2 separate regions of the Homo sapiens genome follow, and region 2 is linked to region 1. The links come from fine-mapping of genetic effects on gene expression. Tissue or cell type: unexposed skin. Region 1 holds a variant in brackets; the other region holds the start of a gene. All regions are shown on one strand. Distances are from middle to middle.

Region 1 (4,256 bases):
TTAAATCTCCAAAGACATTACCAGACCCTTCCTCGTCCCTTTCTTTCATGATCAGATGGCTTCTTACTGAAGAGTCTGGGAGAGACGGAAAGGTCAAGAATGTAGTTAAGGAGGAGGCAGGGAGACAGCTAAGGACCTCTCTTCCAAGCACGTCCCAGGCGAAGTGGTAGCAGTTTATTCCCGCCTGCCCAGTCCCTCTCTAGGCATGGACAGTCTAGGCCTCCACGCTGATCCTCTTACTGCAAAAGAAGCTGAAGGGAACACTTCACTCCAAGGCTCAAGGGGTTACAGCTCTCCCCAAATTTCCCCAATAGGTTTGGAGTTCAAGAGCTATTTTATCATACCAGTAATAAGAGAATTTGGGGTCTCACATCCCCGCCCTGGGGTCACACAGGAATTCTCTTTGAACAAAAGAGAAAAAGATACAAGAAATTATGCTGTGTGACCCTGAAAGGTGGTCGTAGAGCCCCTTGAAGGGCAGTAGGGACTTTTTAGGAGGAGCATAGGCAACAAAAGGAGAGTGCAGAGCAAGCAGGCGGGTAGCATGCTTCCTGTCCCTGCTGGTCCTGCCAAACCCTGCGCTTGCAGACTGCACAGCCACCTTTCTCAACCAGGACTTCCACCATCCACGCACCAATGGGAATGCCGCTCTGGCCCGCAGGGGCTCCCTTGAGCACTGGCCAGGTCTTCCCTCAGCCACAATCCCCTCCCACAATCTGGGCACCTTTAGTTCTGCCAGCAGCTGCCTTGGCCTCTCTGTTCCTCACCATACATTACTTTTCATTCTCTGCCTGCCCTGCCCTCCATATCCCCCTGCCACCATCCACACACCAATGGGAATGCCGCTCTGGCCCACAGAGGCTCCTCTCCCTCCCGGCATCCATGTGACGTGTGTCATACCGCACCGTGGCAGGCTGGGGAAGGGGCACAGGGTCACCCTGAAACTGTGGAATGCACCTCCTCCCCCTGCAATCCCCTCCCCAACCCAGAGGGGAAAATGAAGGTCACCCTGATTTGACTCTCCATGTAAAATGGCATTTTCTTCCATAACATCCCATATCAATGTGTCAATTTTCTATTAATTTTACTGGGGAAGTGTCTTCCCCTTGTTTCTCACTCTGCCTCCTCCTCTGTGTTATTATGGGCTTGAGGGGCAGGGGTAGCTATTGCTCATGACTTTTACTACAAGATAACCAGACTTCCTAAGCCCTCCATATTGGGACCAATTTCTGCTGAATGCCAGGTGATGAGAGGTTTCAGCCCCTGGCGTGGGTGGATGACGTCAGACCAGGGCAGCAGAGGACTCTCATTCCACAAGCTCCCTCAGGACTGAGCACTTGCTCCGGGTCTCCTGAAGCCCCATGTCCATCTCCTTGTCTGCCCTGCCAGTCTAGCAGACTTGGGCTGAGAACCAGACCTTTGCCCTTGGCCCAGCCTCGCCTTCCCCACTGGGTCTCTAGATTTCTAGATTCCCCATAGGGTATGCCAGCAAGGAGAGGATATGAGGGCCCAAGAAAACTCAGGAAAGTTTCTATCACCAAGGGCAGAACACGAACATCTTGAGGCTAAAGGAGCTGCATGGTTGCTACCAACAAAGGAGACCGACGGTGTGCAGTTGATTCCCATGTTTTTACTGCACTTCACCCCCAAATTCCCAGCAAGGTCTAAGGCTTCGCCAGGAACCCTTGTCTTCTTGCCAAAGGCAT[G/C]TCAGGGCCATCCTGCAATACTCATGAGGTTGCCTGTCCCTTCATGCCCCTCACCCCACCCCAGGATTAATCATCAAAGAAGGACTGTCTACATGTCCTCCTCCCTGTGCTTAGGAAGAGAGACAAATAAGAGAATGAGAAGGCTGGGAAGGCCCTTAGCGGTCACATCAAGCAACTGTCCTTGCCAAGGTTTTATGGAGGAGGAAACTGAGGCCGCCTTGTGCTGAGTGGCTTACCCGTGAGCAGCCGGCACTCCATAGGGCCACAGCAGAGACTGTTTCTTCGTGGCACGGAAGGACATCTCTGCTTGCTGGTCCCACGGGCTAGGACAGCCCCTATTGACGTTGCACTATAGCTGCATGTGACCTTTAACCAATGGTAAAATAGCCGGATTTGTTTCCACCTCCTTCTGAGGTTCTGACCTGTAGTAGAGAAAAGAAATAGACAAGCGTGGGTGGGCCACATCCTGATCAGCTGCCAAAATGCGTGTGGCCCTTGTTACCCCTGTCCTGCCCACTTGGTGGACCATTGCAGGAAGTCTGAGCCCTCTGCCTTCCTTTCTCCTTGCAGGGCGAAGATGGCTTACCAGTCCAAGGCTGCTGGAACAAGGTAAGGCTTCCCATTGGTGTGCACTGGGGCTCCGTTCTCAGCAGTGCCATAAAGCTTCCACAATTTCCATTCTGCCTTGCTACAGATGAGGCAGCAAGACATAGGTCAAATAGTCACTGTCTCAAAGGCAGGGTGCCCATTAAACATCCCATACACTGCATGCTGTTAACAAACATTTTAAAATGCTTCTTAGAACATCAGTAAACCCTAGGCGGAATGTCCATGCAGCCACACAGGTGACATCTTTATGCTTTGTGTGTTCAATGTACATAGTGTCTTTCCCCCAAGGAACTTCCCCAAGGAGTTCCAGATCACACTCATAGAGTTCCTCTAAGGTCGTTTATGCCACGTGATGACATGTCTTAGACGTAGGACATCTCAGTTGCTTTCACTCTGAACTCACATGCTACTGTGCCTCCCCTAGGGGCTGTGCTCCTCACCACTCTACCACTCCCCTTGCATTTAAGCTGGCAGAGCTTCATGCCACCACACATGTGACCTGCAGCCAAATCTCTCCTGGGCTCCCAGAGTTCCTACCAACAATGAGTTTTCATTGATTCACACTGGCCTTGGCATTTGCCATTGTTAGAGCAGTCTGACATCATAGGACTGTGCCCTTGCATGTGATCGCCCCATTCAACCATGGCTCCCCAGAGCACAGGGCTGCCCAGGCAGACAGAGGCCATCTGCTTGCTAACTAATCCAGAAGACCCGCCTTGGTCCCCAGCAATGGTGGCAGCCACTATGCTGCCCCATACCGTCTCCCTCCACCTTGCCTGTCACTCCAAGTCTTCTCACCAACCCCCCACCACCATTGTCTCAAGGTTCATCCTCATAAAGGGACCGGAGACTCCAACATGTTCAAGAATCTGTGCTCAACGAATCCAGTCCTGTTCCAGTGGCAGCAGAGTCACACTTACAATGAGATGAACAAGCTCCCCTGTACTAAGATGCCAGAATCTCACTAGTGCACTGGGTTGGGTAAAAGTGGTGAAACCACCAAGACCCCAGGCCAACGCTGACCACCTACCTGCCTGGATACCTAAAGCACCCCCTAACCCAAGAAGGAAAAGCTCAACACTCAAGAGAGATGCCTCCCCAGAATCCATCCCTGGAGGCTGGCCTCGTCCTCCTGCCAAGCTCCACTTAGACCTAGTTAAAGCGCCACAAAAGCAGGTCAGAGGTGTCATAAGACCTCTGAACCCTTGACCCCTAAAAAAATTTCCTCTTTAAAGTTGCTGCCAATGGTTAGGAGACAGAAATGGTTGTGCTTAGCAGGGGAAGAACAGCCACTACCAAGAGCTGCAATGTCTTGGAGAAGCAACCAGAGAGCTTCAAGACTACTCATTCACACCTTAAGTCCAATCTGGGACAATGCAGTGGTTACAACAATCAGGCCTCCAAAGGCAGCAGAGAAAGAGAGTGCCCTCTAGTGACCACAAAGGGGATTCACAGAGAGGTGAACTTGGTTTCCTCCCTTCAGGGAGCTAAGGTCGCCACCAGTTTCTTTCACCTAGGGGCTCAGGGTTCCCACAGTTCTCCTGTCCAGAACTCCCATCCAACCCAGGACAAGATTTACCTCCCTTCCTACAAAGGAAATAAACCTCTGCAGACCCACTGAAACTAACAGAACATTGTTTTGTTTTTGTTTTGCAGTGATGCCTCTAACCTTGGATTGGCCTGTGTGTGTGTTTGTACATAGAATATTTATTTTTATACAGTTTTCACTTTTTGAAAATGCCAGAAGTATGATGCATCTTACAGATTATTAAAAAAGAAAGAAAAACCTGCATATTTTGTACAGAAAATATCAACCTCTTCCCTTTTGTTTACAAGATGTTTTGTATAAGCCTATGTCTCTAATACATTTTTTGTTTGGTCGTAATGTCTGCATGATATTTGTGCACATTTATTAAGTATCGAAGCTTAATAAATTATTGT
Region 2 (4,000 bases), 150 kb before region 1:
CAAACTGTTTAGATTTCACTGCCTGAGCATTCCTGAGGGCCTCCAAAGTCCTGAAAGGGAAAAGATCAGTTTGCAGAATAAGGAGGGAATGAAACTAACTCCCCACCTCAGTTCCTCCATTCAGACTAGCCTGGGAGGGGAGTGGGGGAAGTCCAAAGTCCCTGAATTTCCTGGCCTGTACCTCCCAGTGCAGAAACTCTCCAACGCCCCCTGGTGTTCTTCAATACCATCCAAGTCTCCCAAGGATTCATTCCTCTGTAGAGTGGACTGGGACATCCCATCACAGGGATGGAGAAAACAGAGTGCCCTTGCCACTGAAGCCATCAGGAGAATCCTAGAACTGGAACTGGAACCCAGAGCTCCTGGCCACGGGCTCTTTCAGCAGCATCGCCTTCTATTCCTGTTGTCCTCCATAGTGGCTGACTGGCCCAGCAGTCAATGTTACCTTTATTACATATGATCTCAGTACTTACTATGTTACAAGTCCAATATGCACTATTAAGTGTGCCACACTTTATTAGAAGTGCAGTGACACTGTATTATATATCAAGTTCCATCAGGTCAATATAGAAAATGGGAAGTTTGTACTGGCATGCCTTGTTATTTTGAAATGGAATCCCAGCACCACTGCTGCCCCCACCTCCACTGCATATTTGAAAACCCAGTCTACTCTCCTCTGCCCGCTGTTCCAGGAAGACAGGCTTTCTCCCAAAAACTCAGTCCCACCACCTCATTCACAGGAATGTCAACAGGCACAAGGAGATAAAGTCTCTTGGGATACAAATGCTACTTAATGTGGGGGGTGGAGGAGGTGACAAGAGAAGAGAGAAAACTACCAAATGCCCTTCAGGCCACCAGTTTTTCTCTAGTGGAATATAGGAAATGACAACAGGAGAGAGCCTGGTTAGCCCTAAGCCTCCCGCAGGGATGGAACCTGAGTTTGTGTAGGAATTGCTCACCTTTGATGACTGGGATGATTGAGGCAGGCTGGTCTCACCACACAGGGATAGATGGCATGGGTCTCAGATTAATGGCAGGCAAGAAGGGGAGATGTCAGGACTGGCAGGCGGCCCCAATGAGCCACCTCTCAGATACCTGGAATAAGATCTCCTCCGTTTTCAGTGTCTCATACTACCTCAGGTCTTGGTCCTGAGAGGAAGGGCTGCCAGCTCTGCTGCCCCCTGGAGGGCTGACTTTTCACCCCAGAGTAAAGATGTGGTTGGCCGCCCGGCACTGGAGGAGCTGCAGATCTCAGGAGGTACAGAGCCCCCGGGGAGTCGGTTGTCGGGGGAGAAGGAAGGGGAAAGAGGTTGGGGGCTTGGGAGTAGAGGAGCGGTGGCTGAAGGGATCAGGTAGTCCTGATCAGGACGTGGAGATCCACCCACAAGCCCTGACAATAACTCAGTCGAGTTCCTGGAGGGTCTCAAGGGCTGGGAAAGGTGGAGTGGTGCCTGCCCCAACGCGTCCATGGAAGGTGGTGCCCGCCTCACCGCCTCCGTGGAAGGCCAAACGAGCCCTCGGTGTGAATCCGGAGAAAGAGAGGGAAGTGCAGCGCCAGCTCCACTCCACACCCCCTTCCTGCCTATAAATAACCCCAAGTGTCACTTCAAAGAGGACGGGGAGCGCGGCAGAGGGGCTCCCGGGCCGGCGGGCTGGGGCCGCCGGACCTGCTCACCACGCCCCCCACCCTGGGCGAGTTTGCATAAATAAACAAATCCAAGCCGTCGGCCCCGCGGGAGGTGGAGGAGGAGTGACGAGGAGGAGGAGGAGGAGGGAGGGGGGAGGGAGAGATTAGTTTGGGAAGTAGCACGGATTGCTCATCCGATCCGTGCCGCCGCAGGGAGTGTGTCAAGTTACAGAGGCGCCGGAATCGGCCCCTGCGCTCCTCGCCAGCCGCCACGACCCACCTCTGCCCATGGGGCCCTCCGTGTGCGCCCCTTCGCCCGGGGACTGAAACTGACTGGCCCGGGAGACACGAGGCGCCCAGAAGGACTGACAGCGCGGCACCAACTGCTCTGCAGACACTTGAAGGGAAAGACTGGGCGGAGAGAAGGAGAGCCGGTCAGATTCCCCTAACTTTCCTGGACTTGGAACGTTCTTCGAAATAACTTTTTTCTCACCTAGGTGTACCCCAATTACCGCTGGTTGTGCTTTTTCGGCACTTCCTCTCCTACTGCTAATTTTTCCGTCCTCTTTGCCGGGAGCAGCGGAAAGGGACGTTTTCCAGCGATACAAGCCCTTTCCCCCTGCCCCGCAGTTTGGATAGAGCCTTTTGGCAGCGGCTGTCGCCTTTATTTATTCTATTTATTTATTTATTGGTTCTCAAGACGCGAGAGGATGGTAGCGGAGCGCACCCACAAAGCGGCAGCCACCGGTGCCCGCGGCCCTGGGGAGTTGGGCGCGCCCGGGACGGTGGCTCTGGTGGCGGCGCGGGCGGAGCGCGGCGCACGGCTGCCGAGTCCAGGGTCGTGCGGGCTGCTGACGCTGGCCCTCTGCTCGCTGGCACTCAGCCTGCTCGCCCACTTTCGGACGGCCGAGCTGCAGGCCCGGGTGCTGCGCCTGGAAGCGGAGCGCGGGGAGCAGCAAATGGAGACGGCTATTTTGGGACGAGTCAATCAACTGCTGGACGAGGTCTGTGCTCTTTGTTGCTGGCTTTTATCCCTCCCCGCGGCGCCCCCTCGCGCAGCCTCCAGACTGTTCAGCCGGTGTCCGCGGGCGCTCGCTCTCTGCGAGCCCCAGGTTCGCGCGAGTTGCCTGCGGGAGGGGTCGGGGACACGGACAGACGCTGCCCTACCAGGGATTCGGAGGACCTGGTGGGCAAGAGCATGACCCAGCGACTCCCGCCTCGGGCAAGCGCCCCCGGCTTCCAGCGCTGGGAGCGCCCTGGGCACGCCGGGCAGGTGGAGGAAGGCTGGGCGCGCGGAGGCTCGCGGAGGCGGGCAAGCTCCACTCCTCCCTTTCGGGACCCGGCCAGGGTGGTGTGACAGCCGCCCCGCGCCCGCGCAGCGGCAAGCGCGCCCAGAGGCCCAGGCCGAGGCTTACTGAGCCCCCATGGCCCTCCCCCTCCACCCCTTAAGGACCCGGGGGGTGCGGGGAGAGGGGACAGTTCTTGCAGGGGGTGGTGCCCTGGTCTCTGCTCACTGGCCCAGGCCGCTAGGGTCCAAGTGTGGGTCGCCTGGCTCTGCTGTCCTTGGCCACAAATTAGTCCACACCTTCTTTTTCCTAAACCAGGTTTCTTATTTTTCTGGAGAAAGGATGCTTTCTTCCATTCTCCAAATTTTTTTGATCCAAGTAGATTAAACACTACTAGCGTGTCAGGTAGCTATGGCAATCTTCGGAATACAGGAAAAGGCTGTCCCCTCCCCAGGAAGGAGGGACATGCAGCCTCTTTGTGCCACCAGAGGAAAGGCTGGGCCTTGACAGGGTGAGGCTTGATGATCTGTGGGAATCTGGACAGCACAGGGGATTCAGGGCCCAGATAGAGAGGAGGACAGGCAGGTGGGGGCCGCAGCAGTCTGGGAAGAGGTCCTGGAGCAGGTCCTGGCCATGGAAGGTCCTGGCCATGGAAGGTTTCCATGGGGAAGAAATGGGAGAGGATATCTTACTTAGCTGGAGGGAGTGTGCAGCAGTAAAGATCACGGTGGTAGAGGCCAGCAACCCTGGGTTTTTATCCCCACTCTGCTACTTGGAAGCTTGGGACAAACGCTCCAACCCCTCTGAACATGCGAAACAGTGCTGATGTAGCAAACACTGGAGCACAGCTCTAACTGTGGTGGGTGGGGTGCTGTGAGCATTTTGGCAAGATGTACCTATTCCCTATAGCCAGGCTCTTCTCAGCTGCCCCTGCCAGGCTGGCACCTGCTGGAGCAGTTCTCCAGGGTGGCCAAGGAGGAGATTGCAGGGCCAGAGCAGAGAGAGCGGTCACAGGGCAAGCGTACTGGTGCTAGTGGTGCACCCATGACTGCTGCTGTCAGCTCATTCCCACGCCCTGCCAGGCTCC

Which allele goes with the higher level. Alleles are on the strand shown, and positions count from the first base shown. SD is a standard deviation of normalised expression in the study named.
For the expression in unexposed skin of the gene that starts at base 1,820 in region 2, allele G in region 1 goes with a higher level than allele C (small effect, 0.20 SD a copy in GTEx).

Evidence for each region. PIP is the estimated chance that this variant, and not a neighbour inherited with it, causes the effect.
Region 2: it holds the start of COL13A1, and the variant in region 1 is fine-mapped to the expression of COL13A1 in unexposed skin (GTEx, PIP 0.95).

Annotation. Positions count from the first base shown.
Region 1 is chr10:69,954,728-69,958,983 of GRCh38, forward strand. It overlaps COL13A1 (collagen type XIII alpha 1 chain), which reads left to right. Exons shown (of 41, transcript NM_001368882.1): 40 at 2,277-2,315; 41 at 3,972-4,256. The coding sequence ends at 3,974. It overlaps LOC107984242 (a long non-coding RNA gene), which reads right to left. Exons shown (of 4, transcript XR_007062181.1): 3 at 1,943-2,128; 4 at 168-251. Among named protein-coding and RNA genes, the nearest start is that of LINC02636, 52 kb to the right of the region's middle. RefSeq lists a silencer at 2,092-2,161. The variant G/C (reference allele first, on the strand shown) is at 1,707.
Region 2 is chr10:69,800,087-69,804,086 of GRCh38, forward strand. It overlaps COL13A1 (collagen type XIII alpha 1 chain), which reads left to right and starts at 1,820. Exons shown (of 41, transcript NM_001368882.1): 1 at 1,820-2,631. The coding sequence starts at 2,338. LOC124902444 (a long non-coding RNA gene) reads right to left here and starts at 1,685. Exons shown (of 2, transcript XR_007062179.1): 1 at 960-1,685; 2 at 1-50.